Linked DNA regions of Homo sapiens: region 2 is linked to region 1. Evidence: fine-mapped expression QTL. Tissue or cell type: monocytes. Region 1 holds a variant in brackets; the other region holds the start of a gene. All regions are shown on one strand. Distances are between the middles of the regions.

Region 1 (8,104 bases):
CCAGGTTGAAGCGATTCTCCTGCCTCAGCCTCCCGAGTAGCTGGGATTACAGGCGCGCATCACCACGCCCGCCTAATTTGTGTATTTTTAGTAGAGATGGGGTTTCACCACGTTGGCCAGGCTGGTCTCGAACTCCTGACCTCAGAAGATTCGCCTGCCTCGGCCTCCCAAAGTGCTGGGATTACAGGCGTGAGCCATCGCGCCCGACCTATTTCTGATTTTTTATTTTCTTTAGAGACCGGGTCTCACTATGTCGCCCGGGCTGGTCTCGAACTCTTGACCTTAAGCTCTCCCTCCATCTCGGCTTCCCAAAGCGCTAAGATTACAGGCGCAAGCCACCCCCTCGGTTCTCCCTGACTTTTTAATTTGTATCCTCTCCAGAAGGACCTGGCTAGTTCTTTTGGCTTCCCAGAGAGAAATTTTTTCCTTGAAGCAGAGAATGGAAACCTCCATCTTAATCCACAAATACTGAAATTAAACATCTAGGGAGGTGCCCCAGAAACGCTAAGCATTTAGAAGTTAGCAGTTCAGATTCTGGGGAGTCAAAGAGACCTGAGCTCAAATTCAGACTTTGCCATTTACTCTCCGTGTCACCTTGGGCACGTTACTCCTAGCCTCACTTTCCCCACTTGTAAAATGGGGACAAACAGCCTACCTTGCTTTTGGCATCCAGTTCAGGATTTGCAGAAGGCTTGATGCTTCAAGATCTGACCTCCTCTGTGACGTGTATTGCTCTTGGAGGCAGGGCTAGGTGGTGGTTGTGGGGTGTCACTGTTGGGAGTCACACAGACCTGGGTTCAAATCCCAGTTCTGCCCCTTGCAAACTGAATCACATTCAGCAAGTGACTTGATCTTGTTGATCATCTGTCTAGGCTTTTCTGTAAACTGTGCACAGTGTGATGATATTACCACTTCACAAGGTTTTATGTGAGGGTGAAATGAGATTCTATACATCTGGCACAGAGCAAACTATCTATCTATCTATCTATCTATCTATCTATCTATCTATCTATCACCTATCTATCTTTTTTGAAATAGGATCTCACTCTGTTGCCCAGGCTGGAGTGCAGTGGCATGATCTTGGCTCACTGCAACCTCCATGTCCTGGGTTTAAGTGATCCTCCCATCTCAGCTTCCCTAGTAGCTGGGACTACAGGCACACACAGGCTAATTGTTTTTTTGTTTGTTTGTTTGTTTTTGAGACAGAGTCTTGCTCTGTCACCCAGGCTGGAGTGCAGTGGTGTGATCTTGGCTCACTGCAATCTCTACCTTCTGGGTTCAAGCGATTCTCCTGCGTCAGCCTCCTGAGTAGCTGGGATTACAGGCATGTGCCACTGCACCCGGCTAATTTTTTTGTATTTTTAATAGACACGGGGTTTCATTCTGTTGGCCAGGCTGGTCTTCAACTCCTGACCTCAAGTGGTCCACCTGCCTTGGCCTCCCAAAGTGCTGGGATTACAGGCTTGAGCCACCGCGCCTGGCCAGAAGATCCATAGTTTTTAAGGAACAAAATCAGGGTGGTGATTATTTTGGTGGCTTCTCGTTTTTAATCTTTTCAACCAAGGTCATAAACATTTTTCTCTTGGAGTCCTCTGAATTGCACTTCCTGATGGCCCAAGTAGTAATGTCATTGTAAAAACCTTCCCCAGAGGAGGGCCTGGTAGGCAGCCAGCTTATGGGTGACAGTATGTTAGAAAACAGTGAAGCTCTGGGGTCAGACAGATGTGCGTTGAAATGCAAGGCCCACCGCTTGCTGGCTGGGTGACCTTGAACAAGTCACTTATCCTCACTGAGCTGGGTATTAAGGGACTAGTGGACCCCTGTCCACACCCAGGTATAAAGCAATGTAGTCCTCTGCTTCTAAAGGCACCCTCCTCTCTTTGTTAAGTCTTTAATTAGCTTAGGCTACGAGTAGTAAATCCAGAGGCTATGCAGGAACTGCTAATGAGCAAAGCTTCCTGGCCATGAGACAATAGGTAGAGGTGGGGAGTATGGCAGATTTGAGAGCACATGCCTTGTCTAAAGTGGGCAGCAGCTTCTCAGCTCGAACCCGTATTTATTAGCTGGGATGCAGTCTAAAAGTGGATAGAGTTTTCAATTTTTCAAAATAAATGTGAGGCCTAGATTTTTTAAGCAGTATCTCCAGATTTTAAGGCAGTTGGCATGGCTGCCGGCTGGCTTTCCAGGGCCGCCAGATTGTAACCCCTTTGTAGCCGGTAGTGGAAGATGGCAGGGGAACGCAGGAAGAAAAGACTCAAAGGACTATTACAGCAAAATGAGCCCATTACTGTGTCTGGCCACCAGGGGGCAGTAATTCACCTGACATCACTTCCCTCCTTCAATCTCCTTGTCAGGAGTTTACACTCAAAAAATTTTAACTCTCGACTTTGTCTGCATTCAGCTGTGTTGAATGCACAAAATATGGTCCCTGAAGCGATATTGAAAAGTTGGCTTTCTCCATCTTAAGCATTCTGTACTAGGTGAAAATTGCCTCCCCGTGGCCCACGGAGGAGTTTTCTAAACGCTTACCTTGACACATGACAAAGAACCCAGAAAGTGGCTGCATGGGAAATATGTCCATTATGCAAAACAAAACAAGACAAAAAACCCTTCTGCATGTTTAAGGAACAGCAGTCAAGCGCTTCTTGCTGGCAGAGTCGGATTCTATTGCTTAGGAAAAACAAAACTCCCCGGCTTGAGGCTACATGGCATTGAGTTGGCTGCAGAATGACTCAACTTCATTAAAAAGAAAATACACCACACCTGTTCTTGCTTCTTCATTTCTCTCATCTTTCCCCACCCCTGATTTTTTTTTCTCTGTCTAACTTAATGCTGTGGCTGAAAAAGAGAGCCCAGCAGCCCTTCTCCCTGCTACTGATTAATCCTCCTTTTAAAACATACCTGGTGGGGGCCAGGCGCGGTGGCTCACACCTGTAATCCCAGCACTTTGGGAGGCCGAGGCGGGCAGATCACGACGTCAGGCGATCGAGATCATCCAGGCTAACACAGTGAAACCCCGTCTCTACTAAAAATACAAAAAATTAGCCTGGCGTGGTGATGGGCGCCTGTAGTCCGAGCTACTCGGGAGGCTGAGGCAGGAGAATGGCGTGAACCCGGGAGGCGGAGCTTGCAGTGAGCTGAGATCGCACCACTGCACTCCAGCCTGGGCAACAGAGCGAGACTCCGTCTCAAAAAAAAAAAAAAAAAAGAAAAGACATACCTGGTGGGGTCAGACCCAGTTTCTGAGGCATCCCCAAGAAACAGGGCTTGGGGGACCCCATGTGAGTGTCCCTGGGCTAAAGGCTTGTGTTCTGGCCTCAGGATGTTTCTCATGTCGTATGGTCTCAAATCACCAATATTTCAAAACTCAGACATGCAGATGAGTGTTGTTTTCAAAGCAAATCATTTGGGGAAGTGGTACTTCTTACTTGGAAAAAATTAAACGTAACTGCTTTTCACCTGTTGAACAACTATTTTATTTCTTAAAAACAACATGAGATCATTACAGATATAGAATCCACAAAAAACAAGAAAAAAATACACATTCACAATTCTACTCCATATTTCTCTATGCACATTTATTTATTTTTGAGACAGGGTCTCACTCTGTCACCCAGGCTGGAGGGCAGTGGCACGATCTCGGCTCGCTGCAGCCTCAACCTCCTGGGCTTAAATGATCCTCCTGCCTCAGCCTCCCAAGTAGCTGGGACTATAGGTGTGTGCCACCACGACTGGCTAATTAAAAAAATTTTTTTTTTGTAGACACAGGGTCTCACTCTGTCACCCAGGCTGGAGTGCAGTGGCATGATCTCAGCTCACTACAGCCTCAACCTCCTGGGCTTAAGTGATCCTCCTGCCTCAGCCTCCCAAGTAGCTGGGACTACAGGTGCATGCCACCATGACTGGCTAATTTAAACAATTTTTTTTTTTTGTAGAGATGGGGTTTCACTATGTTGCCCAGTCTGGTCTTCAACCCCTGGGCTCAAGAAATCCTCCCACCTCAGCCTCCCAAAGTGCTGGGATTATAAGCATGAGCCGCCACAACTGGCCACATCTATTTTTAAATGATGAAATATTTCTGATATCCAAAAGACATCAACAGTGCAATGGGCGCTTGT[A/G]TACCTGCCATCCAGTTTAAGAAATACCATGTCACCAATACACTGAAGCCCCATGGGCCTTCTCCCCTTCACATGCCCTTCCCTCCCTCCCAGAGGTCACTACCATGTTGAATTTGGTGCTGCTGCCTCCATGCATGGCTTTTTGCTTTTATCCACATGCATGTATCCATAAATAATATATAATGATGTTATGCAGATTTTTATGCATGATATATACCGTGTGGATCCTTCTGCATTTTGGGGCTCAGAATTATGTCTTAGAGATTTATGCTCATGCTGATATGCATAGTTCTGGTTCATTAATTTTACAGTGCTGTATAGTATTCCATTAACAATTTATTTCCCATTTACCTGTTGATGGGCATTTGGATTGTTTCCAATTTTTCCCTATCACAGACTGCAGTGAAATACTTGTATGATTTTTTGGCACATGTGTGGAAGTTTCTCTAGGACAAAGTTTCTCAAAGAATCATTTGGGGGGGTTTTGGAAAAACAACCACATGGGGCCTTGCTCCAGACCAACGAAATCCTCTAACTGCTCCTCTGATCCTACTGTATCTTAGCTACAAGTGGAAATAATCGTACCCACCATGCTATCTCATTTTTGGTAGTGGTGACAACTGAGCACTTACTGTGTGCTAAGTAATTTGTATGGTATTTGATTGAATTTTTGTAACAACGCCATGAACTAGATATTATTAAACCCACTTTATAGAAGGTGAAAATGAGGCTCAGATAAATTAAGTAATTAGTCTGAGGTCACACAGCAAGCAAGTGGCAGAGCCAGGGTTCACAACCAGTCTTCCTGACTCAAAACTGTGGTTTTGACGATTATGAGACCCTAGGCTTTCAGAGATCTCAGGTTACATTTTAGCTCCTCAGCTTTGGAGGTGGAAAAACTAAGGACAGAGCCAGAATACAAATCCAAGTCTCTAGATTCCCTACCCGTTAACATGTCCCCTTCTACTGTAAAAATGCTTTAAGGGTAGGGGAAGGAGCGAGGAGGAAAAATCTTCATAAAGTCATCTTCTCGAGACAATTTCTGACATCCACCCTATGTCTGTTATCCATTGCTGTGTAACAAATAACCCCAATGCTTAGTAGCTTAAAACAACAGCAAACATTTTTTACTTTACATTATATTGTGTGGGTCAGTAATCTGGGAGCAGTTTAGCTGGATGGTTCTAGCTGGCAGACGTTCTTGAGATTGAAGTCAAGATAGTGTTTGGGGCTGCAATCATCTGAAAGCTTGACTGGTGCTGAAGGCTCCATTTCCAAGGTGGCTCACATGGCTGGTGGCTGGGGGCTTCAGTTCCTCTCATGTGGGCTGCCCCGTAGGACTGCTTGAGTGTCCTCTCAACATGGCAGCTGGCTTCTCCAGCATGAATGACCCAAGAGTGTGGTGTCTTTTATGATCTAGCTTCAGAAGGCACAATTTAACCTTCGCTGTACTCTATTGGCCACAACACAGATCAATCTTGGTTCAAGGTATGAGGGGGCTACATAAGGCTCACCAGGAGATGAGGATCAGTGGGGCCCATCTTTGAGGCTGCCTGTCTTATGCACTGCCTCTTCCCTTCTCTGTCCCAGTGATTGATTCTGCCTGACAGGATGGACTTCAGGCCTCCTGGGCCTTATGTGGTGGACTCTTTGGGTACCTCAAGGCAGGGAGCTTCTGCATTTGTGAGACTCCTCTGTGAGAACAGTGGACTCCCAGTGGCTGACTGCTTTTCTCCCAGCTGTTTACTGACTGCTTTCTAGCTGTACTACTCTAATTGGCCCAAGAAGCTGCCTACTCCTGCCTAAAAATATGGTCATGTTGACATGGAGACTGACTCAGGTGCTCAATACGCTGTTTTAGATCACAGCCTCTGAAAGATGTGACTAACACTTCTCTTCCTGCATGGGGACGGTGACTCAGTTTGGGCCAGGATGGAGTGAAGACCCAGTGGAGCCTACATCCTCCCCTTCTCTGATTTCTCTGTTTCACCTGATTCAAGGTAGCCAGGGTCTGGGGGCTGCTGGGCAGAGGGGCTGTGGACTCCCTGAGTCCAAATTGCAGTCCATTTTGATGCCCCCCAAAAAGCTCTCAGTGGAAGCTCTCTGTTGCCATAGTAACGTGGAGATGTGGAAATTAACATGGATGTCTGGCTAGCTAGGAAAGCCAAGCTCTTAATACTCATTCCCTCTTTTAAATAGATAAGAATTCCCAGGAGGGCTTTGGACAGACATCAAAGGGCCTATTTCAGGTGTTGAGAAAATACTCTTTTAAAAATTACTGTGAAATGAATTCAGCCCTAATCAGAGAGATGGCAGTGATTTGGCATTCTCAGAGGAATTGGAGAAGTAAGTTTAGAGCCAAGGCAACTGTTTTTTTTTTTCCTAAATGACAGCTTTATTGAGATATAATTCACATACCACACAATTCTCCCATTTGAAGTGTACCATTCTGTGGTTTTTAATATATTCACAGGGTTGTGCAACCATCACCCCAATTTTAGAACATTTTCATTACCCCCAAAGAAAGCAAAGACCCTTTAGTAGCAATTTCCTGTTTCTCCCCAAGCTCCTTCCCTCAGCCCCTGGCAATCTACTCTCTGTCTGTATAGATTTTTCTCTTCTGGATGTTTCCTGTAAATGGAATCCTATAATATGGTGGCTTTTGGGGTCTGGCTTCTTTCAGCATTTTTATTTCTTGCCCTCTTATGGTTCTTCACAGTTTTTCCAACAGCAGTGTTTCCATGCACTTTGAGAACAATTCATTGGCTGGGGGTGCAGCTGCAAAATTAACCCCCAGCCTGGGGATGGATGAAAGGGAGCAGAGTCCTCCAAGGCCACCCACCTGGCCTTCCTTGTTCCTTCTTGAGCCTTCCTGGCTGCTTTGGGACTGTGGTGGGTAAAGTGGCCCTTTGGGAGCATGGCTGGCTGGGCTTCACACTGGCATACAGTGGACATGCTTCCTGTGACTTCCTTTCTTGGGAGAGTTATAATCACAAGCAGCAGAAGATCACCAGGTGCCAGGCACCATGCTACGAGCATCCCTTGAGTTAGGATAATTTCACTGTTACAGACCTTTTTTCCCCTCTCTTTTTATGGGGATTCACTAAACAGCCACCTCTTTTACTTCATGCAGATGTTTTGCTGAGGCTATCACTTGCGTCATTTTTCTATTTTTCAGCCATAAATGATGCACATAGAAATAATCTCACTCTTCGCCCTCTGCTAGCCTAGATATTTTACTTGTTTGTTTATTTATTTATTTATTTATTTATTTATTTATTTTGAGATGGGGTCTCACTCTGTCTCCTAGGCTGGAGTGCAGTGCTGCAATCTCGGCTCCCTGCAACCTCCGCCTCCTGGGCTCACACGATTCTCCTGCCTCTGCATCCCGAGTAGCTGGGACTACAGGCATGTGCCACCATGCCCAGCTAACTTTTTGTATTTTTGTTAGAGACAGGGTTTCACCATGTTGTCCAGGCTGGACTCAAACTCCTGGCCTGAAGCGATCCTCCTGCCTCAGCCTCCCAAAGCTTTGGGATTACAGGCATGAGCCACTGCCCCTGGCCTATTTTTTAAAATATAAAGTGGCTCTGCAGCCCCTTTGTTCTTAATAAGCTCCACAGGGGCAGGGATTTGTCTTTTGTTTACAGCTTGCCTAAGGCTGGCAGGCCACAGGAGTATTATCAACATTGATTGAACAAATACATGATTTTGTTGAATCCTTTGATGCCCCACAAAGTAGGTAGAGTTATGAGACCCATTTTACAGATGAGGAAACCGAAGCCCAGAGATGTGAAATGACTTGTCACAGGCCATCAGCCTATAAGTGGTGGAGCTGGGATTTGGTCTGATTAAGGGGGATCTGGAGCTCTTAAGCACTCTATTATGTGCAAATATGTGTTATGGGTTGAACTGTGCCTCTCAAAATATGTTGAAGTCCTAACCCCAAGATCCGTGAGTGAGACTTTATTGGGAAACAGAGTCTT
Region 2 (8,104 bases), 52 kb before region 1:
GCCCATGTAGAACAGTGCCCCACTGCCTTACAGAAAACCAGATTTCCCAACAGCCAGACTCTTTGACTATGTCTATCATTCAGTTTCCCAATTCTGCTAACCCTTCTTGGTTGATTCAGGTTCTGCTCCTGAAACTCAGATGGGAGATCTCAAGGTTAAAGAAATGTCCTCTCTCCCATTTTCTGATCACAATTCACAGTCCCCTAAGGGCCAGGTTCTGGGAGCAAAAGTGCCTTGTCTCATTTCTCCCTTCACCTGAGGACAGTTCCTGACAAATCACTTCAGAGCTACCTCCTGCCACAGCAGGTTAGGTCTGAGCTTCCTGGCCCACAGGGGCTTGCCAGCCAGAAGGCCGTGAGCCACAGGAAGCAGGTGGCACGTGGCCTGGCAAACTGCTCTGCTGTGGAGCTGGCCAGCTTCCAAGCATGCTCCTCTGTGACTCAGCTCCCTGAACCTGGTCCCTTGGGGCAGCAAAGATGAGTGCCTTGCTGGTTGGCTTTTCTGAGAGGTTTTGACAGCAACTGGATTTTAGAAAGTCCAGCTCTTCACTGTGTTTGGGACCTTTGACCTCTGCAGCTACCAGGGAAAGACACTTGGGAGACAAAGGGATGAAAAAGAAGTTCTAGCTCTTTATTATCTCTGCCTTTAGAGGGCTTGCGATCAGCCACCTGGATCACTGTTCTGATTTCGTTGTTCACTTTGCCCCCACCCTTGCTGTCTTTTTGATTATTTAATCCCTCTTTTAACACAGGCTAGTTTATTTCACCAATTCTTGAAAGCCACCTAGAACCCTTCCTGAAACATGAGAGGAAATAAACAAGAAAATAACTACCTTATAACAACTCTCTGACTTGAGAAATTATAAGAGCACTGGTAACCTTAGAGAAAGCCAAAGATTTCTTTTAAATTCTATTTTGTTAGAGGGACAGGTGAGGATCTTTTTTATATGTAATTAACACCCAAACAAACAAAAAAATAAAAATGATCAACAAGAAAAAAACCCAAACAACACCTAGTAGAATGATCCATAATTCCCAATTTGAAGAAATGATAATATAATCAACATCTGCATAGGAGAAATTTTAAAAATTTAGAATATTAAAAAAAAGTCATGGTTACTTGTTTTTGACCCATTAGATTTGTGAGCCACCTTACCGTCTTTCCTTTCACCCATTCAGTGGCTAATGAGCTGGAGGCAATTGCGGAACCACAGCCAAATGTTTTAAACCTAGCATCCACAATCTTCCCCTTTTCATCCACTTGAATCTAGAAAAGAGACAAGAGTTAAGTGGTGAGTCCTGGGACCACCCTCTGGAACCTGGCACTCACGAAGGTTCACCAGGGCCTTCCCCAAGGGCTTTGGGCTTGCTTTCCACACTAAGTGATGGCATTAATTACTGACTTTGCCTTGTTTCAAAGAGCTCAGTGATGAAAAGTGAAATGCAGGGACAACTATCCAGGCCCAACTGACAAAGATCAGCTGAAAAATATGTCCCTCCACTCCAATATTCTTTTGTTTTGTGACTCTGGCCTGCATTTTGGCTATGAACTTCTATTTGTGGAAGTCTGCTCACAGCTGCTGGGGCAATCTGGCCTCTTTAAACACTGACAGAGTCCACAATAAAGGTCTCTGGTTAATACTTTTTTCTTGGGCAGCAGATTACACTTAGTGGTTTCCTCCTGTTTTGTTTCTGTATTCCAAGATAGGTATGAAGACCTCTGGCAAGCTGCCCACTCACCATGAAGCAGCAGATTGGTGCTACAACTACAGTTTACCCAAAGCACTAGACACTATTTTCATGTTTCCCCCAATCTGGGGACAGGTTTAATTTACTGTGTTTCTTGTTTCATTGGGGACTGCTAGCTCACTGGGATTTTCCTTTGATCAGTAAAATTCACAAAACTCTTTAGTTGGCTGAAGTCAGAATTTAAACTGATACAGTGAGTACAAAAATGAGATTACTTTTCTATTTTGGAAAAAGTTGGCATAGTACACTAGCCTAGCAGGAGAGCTACGATTGAGGCCCTGCTCCAGTCATATCTAACATGGACTCATCCCATCTCACAGGAATGGAGACCAAGTGAAATGCTTGGAGATCTCACAGGAATAAAGATGGAGACCAAGTGAAATGCGCAAGTGCTTTGTAAACTTAAAGGGATTATTGTTATCACTATTAAAAAAGACTAGCCATACCTGTAATTTCATTACGTCACCACATGCTGGAGCCCCCACCAGTCCAGTTCCAACATTTTTAGATGTCTTGTCAAGGGACCCCACGTTTCTAGGATTTTCATAATGATCAACAACCTAAAATGAGAGGGTTAAGATAAATCATGTTCACTCTCTATTGGTACTGGTCTCTGGTTTGATGGTAAGCTCCTCGGTCAGCATCTTGAACCTGGCAGGCAATCACTAAATACCAAATTTCACCTGAGTAGAAAGGTCTACACTCATGTCAATGAGAACCATTTGTGACCCCCAATTCCTTTTGTGTCTCCTCTACAATACTTCACAGATTTGAGATACCTAGAAGAAAAAAAAATCAGTGAAATCATGTCTTAGTTCCATAGGATTTTTACAAAAATACTTGACTTTCACCCACCTACATCACCAGACTTGGGCTCAAACAGCAGTTTTGTTATTTTCAAATAAAATCCATCCTCAAAGGATGATTACTATTTAAAAATTCTAAAAATAACCATGGCCCAGGGAGGGAAAGCTTTCTTAGAAGCCTTAAGGTGACTGTTACACAGGGAACAATGCTATGGAATGTGTACGTTTATGTGTCTTTTAAAATAAAAACAGTGCCATTACCGTATTTCACAGCCTGTCATCACCCTGGTGCAGCAGCGCACCCTGGCTGCTGAAAGGCTGCTAGTCCAAGTTTCTTCAGGGTGTACCCTCAACAAAACACACCCCCGGGAGGGGGAGGAGTGAAGAAGCCCTTGGAGAAAGGGCAGAAGCCAGATCACAATAAACATCCATTCGAACTGGCACACAGAAGGCCTTAATAACCTTGAGGTTTGGTTACTGGTTAGTAGTAAGCACGCCGATCTTCCAGTCCCCTTTTCCCCCCATCTGACTAAGGATTTTGACTCCAAGTAAAAGGGACCTCAGGATAGTATCTAATGTAGGGGCCTTTTGTGCCACGTTGATTTATGGCATTCTTTAGTTGTTTCTCGAGTGGGAGTCTCACGTCTGGGGGACTTTGTGCCACCAGACAGCAAGGGGCTGCAGACTATGAATCTATCCCTCCTTCCCCGCCAAAAAACCCCCCAAACAAAACAAAAACATTACGCATGTTGGTTACAAGCCTGACTCCCCTATGCACTCCTAAAGCAGTAACAGAAACGGTCTCCTCGTGCTGGGGCCTATGTGCCAGGAACCATGCCAGGACTCCACGCACAGTATCCTTTGTAAGGGACAGCTGAGAGCCCCCCATTTACACCTGGGGAAACAGGTTCAGAGAGGCGCAGTGACTAGCCCAAGGTCATCTGGCCAGGGCAGCGGAGTGGCTGAAGCCGGAGCCCGCTCCGGGGGTGTGTCTGTCCCTGGACTCAGAAAGACAAGTCCCAACAGGACCCTGCCTCCTGGGCTGTTGGCGAATTTAAAATTGGGACGCACGAAGTCGCGGCCAGCGGCGGGGCCCCCTGGAAGTCGCCGCCCGATGAGCGGTAACTGTTGTTTATCAGTTGCAGTGAGCCTCACTGCGCAGCAAGGGAAAGCGAGTCAGGGCAAAGACGTGGGAGGGGACAGCTCCCAGTCCTAGCTGCGCAGAACCCCGCGGCCGCCCCTCCAGCCCAGGCCTCCGCTGAGTCGGCATTCCGCGCGTCCCTCTTTTGTCCCTACCTTCTTGTGATAGAGTCGGGCCGGGGCCGACAGCTCCCGGGCGGGCAGGCGGGGGCTCCGCAGCAGCAGAGCCGATGCCGCCCGCCTCAGACGGAAAGCCCCAGCCGCCGCCATCTTGCCGGCTTGCGCCTGCGCCAGTCCAGAGCGACGCCGAGGGGCGGGGCGCGTCTGCGAGTCGGCTCCGAGCTGGGAGCGCGCCTCTCTGACGTCACCGAAGCTTTGCGCCTGCGCTTTACCGCTCCGTGCACGCGTCCGCCTTCTGGCCCCGCCTTGACCACGCCTCTCGGGGGCGGGCGGGGTCGGGAGCGGGAAGGTCTGAAGTCGCTGGAGGGCTTGTCCTGGGTGCTGGATTCTGGTTGAGACAGGACCTCAGGGCTTCTGCAGTGTGGGGCTCAAGTTCGCTTTCACAAATCCCGCTGCGGGAATGCGGCGCAGAGGAGCACCGAGTCCACTTTTCCTAACCCTATTTTGCAGCTAAGGAAGCCGAGATTCAGGGCAGTTTAGTAAGTCCGTCCAAGGTCGCTAAGGACTTATGTTCAATTAGAATTCGAACTTGGGTAATCCTGGGTTAGAATCCTGGTTCGGTTCCTTCCTGGCTGTGTGTCCCTAGACGAATGGTACCGGCTCGCTGAGTCTGAATCTTCCCTTTTGTATTAATTCGAGGACAATTGCTTCATCATGAAGCCAGCATCTGTGTCGAGTACCTACTATGTGTCAAGGCGCTCTACTAGACCCGGGGATCCAACGGAAAGCAAAACAGACATAATTCCTGCCCATTAAGCCTGCTAATGAGGGAGCAAGGTAGAGATAGAGACACACACCAATACTTTCCTACCTCAAAAATGGGAAGCTTAAGAAGGAAACGAATACCATGTCCTGATTGAAAAAAAATGAATATGTCTATTTTTCTCTCTAAAACAACAGCAAACTCAATTTATATGTCAGTGCCTAGCAATTAAGAATTTCTAAAGAAATGCGTATTAATGTAATTTACTGTTGGTTTGCAGTATGTGATCTTATAAAACCGGAAAACTCACGTGTATTTAACGTCTACTAGGTACCAGACGTTTACATAAAGGGGAGGAATCTGGGAAATGGATTTTTCTCTTGAATGGTGAAATCGATCCTTCCCCGAGGACCTGCAGTTTTCTTTGCGTTTGAGGCGCAGTTGCTGGGGAGAGTAAACCCAAGCGCCAGGTCACACTAGGCGATAAGTAAGGCATTTAATCGAAGAATCACTTTGACCTTCTCAAGATGGCGCCAAATTCTTCACTACAGACATCACTCTCGCTCCATGACTTCCTCTATGGCTTCCACTTCCTGCCCAAAGACCCAACTTCTGTCCGAAGTTGTGACGGAACGCATGCCATTATAATGAGTTTTTATATCTGGTGGGAGCTTTTACAGGGTATAAAATAATGTGAATTTAGTGTATGTGGAGATTTTCCTGTTATCTAAGTTCCCAGTTTCTCTTTCAATGGCAAGAAAACGGGTTTTTGATAAGGCGCGCGCCGCGGGCAGCTTCTGCCTCAGCGGGTCTTCGGCGGCCGCGGGAAGACCCGAGAGTCATTAGAAGCGCAAGATGGCGACTGCGGCCGAAACCTCGGCTTCAGAACCCGAGGCTGAGTCCAAGGCTGGGCCCAAGGCTGACGGAGAGGAGGATGAGGTTAAGGCGGCTAGGACAAGGAGGAAGGTGTTATCGCGGGCTGTGGCCGCTGCGACATACAAGACCATGGGGCCAGCGTGGGATCAGCAGGAGGAAGGCGTGAGCGAGAGCGATGGGGATGAGTACGCCATGGCTTCCTCCGCGGAGAGCTCCCCCGGGGAGTACGAGTGGGAATATGACGAAGAGGAGGAGAAAAACCAGCTGGAGATTGAGAGACTGGAGGAGCAGGTGGGCCCGGGGGTGGGCAGCGGGCATCTTCCAGTCTTTCAGGTCCTCGGGTCCCCATGTCCTGGCCCGCCTCCCTAGTCCTCGGCGGCGATAAAGCCGCCAAGGCTGCAAACCCGCTTTTCGTGACAGTAGCTCCTGTCGGATTTGAGTGCTTACTGCCTGCCCATTGCCTTGCAAACGTTATCTCATTGAATCCTCGCCACGACCCTGTGAAGGAAGCCCTGTTATCTATCCCCATTTTACTGGAGGAAACTGAGGCTCGTGGAGGAAAGTTTCTTGCTCAAGATAACACTTCCTGCAAGTCAGGCCTTGTACTTTGATCCCATTCCAGAACTCCCACTCTTAACCACACGTCCAACAGTAGAAATAAACTCATTCGCAAGAGAGTGTTATTTTGTTATGTAGGAATGACGGCGATGATGAAACTTGTGGTAAGAAAAATATTGACCGCGATGGTGATAATAGAAATGGAAAGGTTTCTGGTTCTGGAGGTTAAGGCCTCAGTTCTAGCTGTTCAACTCTTGTATGTGCTTGTAAGAATTTCTTAATTTCTCTCACCCTCTCGACTTCCTTATCTGCAGATTGGGAGCAACAATTTCTGCATAATATAATTGTTGTAACAGTAACTATAGCTCAGTGCCTAGCATCTAGTCATAACATGGTCTCTCACTTGTAACCTTATGAGGTGGTGATATCTACTGTATAATCCAGGATCTCAGCAGGAAATAGGTGGCACATTTAAATTAGGATGATCTGAGAGAAACTCAATAAAGGTGTGGGTAGGGAAATCGGGAGTGAAGGTTTAGTATCCCATAGCTGGTAACTCCAGAACCTGGTGTCCATCTTTGGGCCGGAAGGGGTGAAGGGTGTGATCTGAATTGTGTGGAGAGGGCACCTGAGACCTGCTGATAACTTTGTTCAAGGGAAGCAGCCCCAGTTTCCTGTCAAGGATTGAGGTGGGGGAAGAAATACCCTGACCTCTCTTTCTTCCTCCCACCAAACTTCTGCTGGTGCCTCCTGCTGGGCAGACCCATCTGGAAGCTGGAGAGCCAGGAAACCTGTGCATGAGGTCTATACTCGGGGACACAGGGCAGGGAGGAGAGGGTAGGGTGTTTTTTGGAGGGGGCAAACAGAAGAGATGGAGCACATTCTCTCTTTTTTTTTTTTTTTTTTTTTTTGAGACAGAGTCTCGCCCTGTCACCCAGACTGGAGTGCAATGGCACCATCTCGTGTCACTGCAACCTCTGCCGCCCTGGTTCAAGCGATTCTCCTGCCTCAGCCTCCCCAGTAGCTGGGATCCAGGCACGCACCATTGCGCCCGGCTGATTTCTGTATTTTTAGTAGAGACGGGGTTTCACCATGTTGGTCAGGCTGCTCTTGAATTCCTGACCTCAGGTGATCCACCCACCTTGGCCTCCCGTAGTGCTGAGATTACAGGTGTGAGCCGCTACGCCCGGCCCGCATTCTCTTTTTACAGATGAAGAAACAGAGGTTCAGAACAAATGATGAAATGATTTCCTTTAAGTTATTCATAGTGGGATTTACACTTAAAATGTGGACTAGATGCCACACTGGATGTGAAATCACTCAGTGAATGTGAAGTTGCTAATCTAGTTTACTCATTAAACCTTACTGAGTGTCAGTTTCCTTATAATACTCTCTCTGGCACTGATATTTTTGTTATGAGATAGTGATGTCATCCATTGGTATAGCTTGTCCCACCCATTACATCTGATTGTCAGAGGAACCTGTTGGGGTTGGCAGGTGGTTAGCATTTCTACTTTTTTTTTTTTTTTTTTTTTTCTTTTTTGAGACGGAGTCTTGCTCTGTGGCCCAGGCTGGAGTGCAGTGGCACGATCTCGGCTCACTGCAAGCTCCGCCTCCCGGGTTCATGCCATTCTCCTGCCTCAGCCCCCCGAGTAGCTGGGACTACAGGCGCCCGCCACCAAGTCCGGCTAATTTTTACTATTTTTAGTAGAGATGGGGTTTCACCGTTTTAGCCAGGATGGTCTCGATCTCCTGACCTCGTGATCCGCCCGCCTCGGCCTCCCAAAGTGCTGGGATTACAGGCGTGAGCCACCGCGCCTGCCCTCTACTTTTTATAAATAAGTGTGCTGAAGCTAATTTAGTCTTACTCATTCAGCAAACACAGCGTGACACTGGGTACCAGATTGACTGTGTCCCTGCCCTTGTTGATGTCATTTCTTCAGACTGCTAGTCCTGGGCCTTTCGATGAGCCTATTCTGTGAGGTGGGGAAAGAGAGGTTTGGGACCAGAGAGGTTAAGTCCTTGGTGAGGGTACACAGCTTGCTAAAGAGCAAGAAAGGGGAGAGCAGAGGTCTCTGGCCACTAGTACTCTG

What was found. PIP is the estimated chance that this variant, and not a neighbour inherited with it, causes the effect.
Region 2: ISCU starts here. The variant in region 1 is fine-mapped to the expression of ISCU in monocytes (TOPMed, PIP above 0.99).

The regions. Positions count from the first base shown.
Region 1 is chr12:108,506,328-108,514,431 of GRCh38, reverse strand. No RefSeq gene overlaps it. Among named protein-coding and RNA genes, the nearest start is that of FICD, 4.9 kb to the left of the region's middle. RefSeq lists a silencer at 1,180-1,365. The variant A/G (reference allele first, on the strand shown) is at 4,119.
Region 2 is chr12:108,558,483-108,566,586 of GRCh38, reverse strand. ISCU (iron-sulfur cluster assembly enzyme) reads right to left here and starts at 3,991. Exons shown (of 5, transcript NM_213595.4): 1 at 3,851-3,991; 2 at 2,195-2,308; 3 at 1,156-1,266. The coding sequence starts at 3,964. It overlaps SART3 (spliceosome associated factor 3, U4/U6 recycling protein), which reads left to right and starts at 5,414. Exons shown (of 19, transcript NM_014706.4): 1 at 5,414-5,744. The coding sequence starts at 5,433. RefSeq lists enhancers at 71-120, 3,502-3,571, 4,102-4,181, 4,252-4,311, 5,166-5,265 and 1 more and silencers at 2,762-2,811, 3,772-3,891.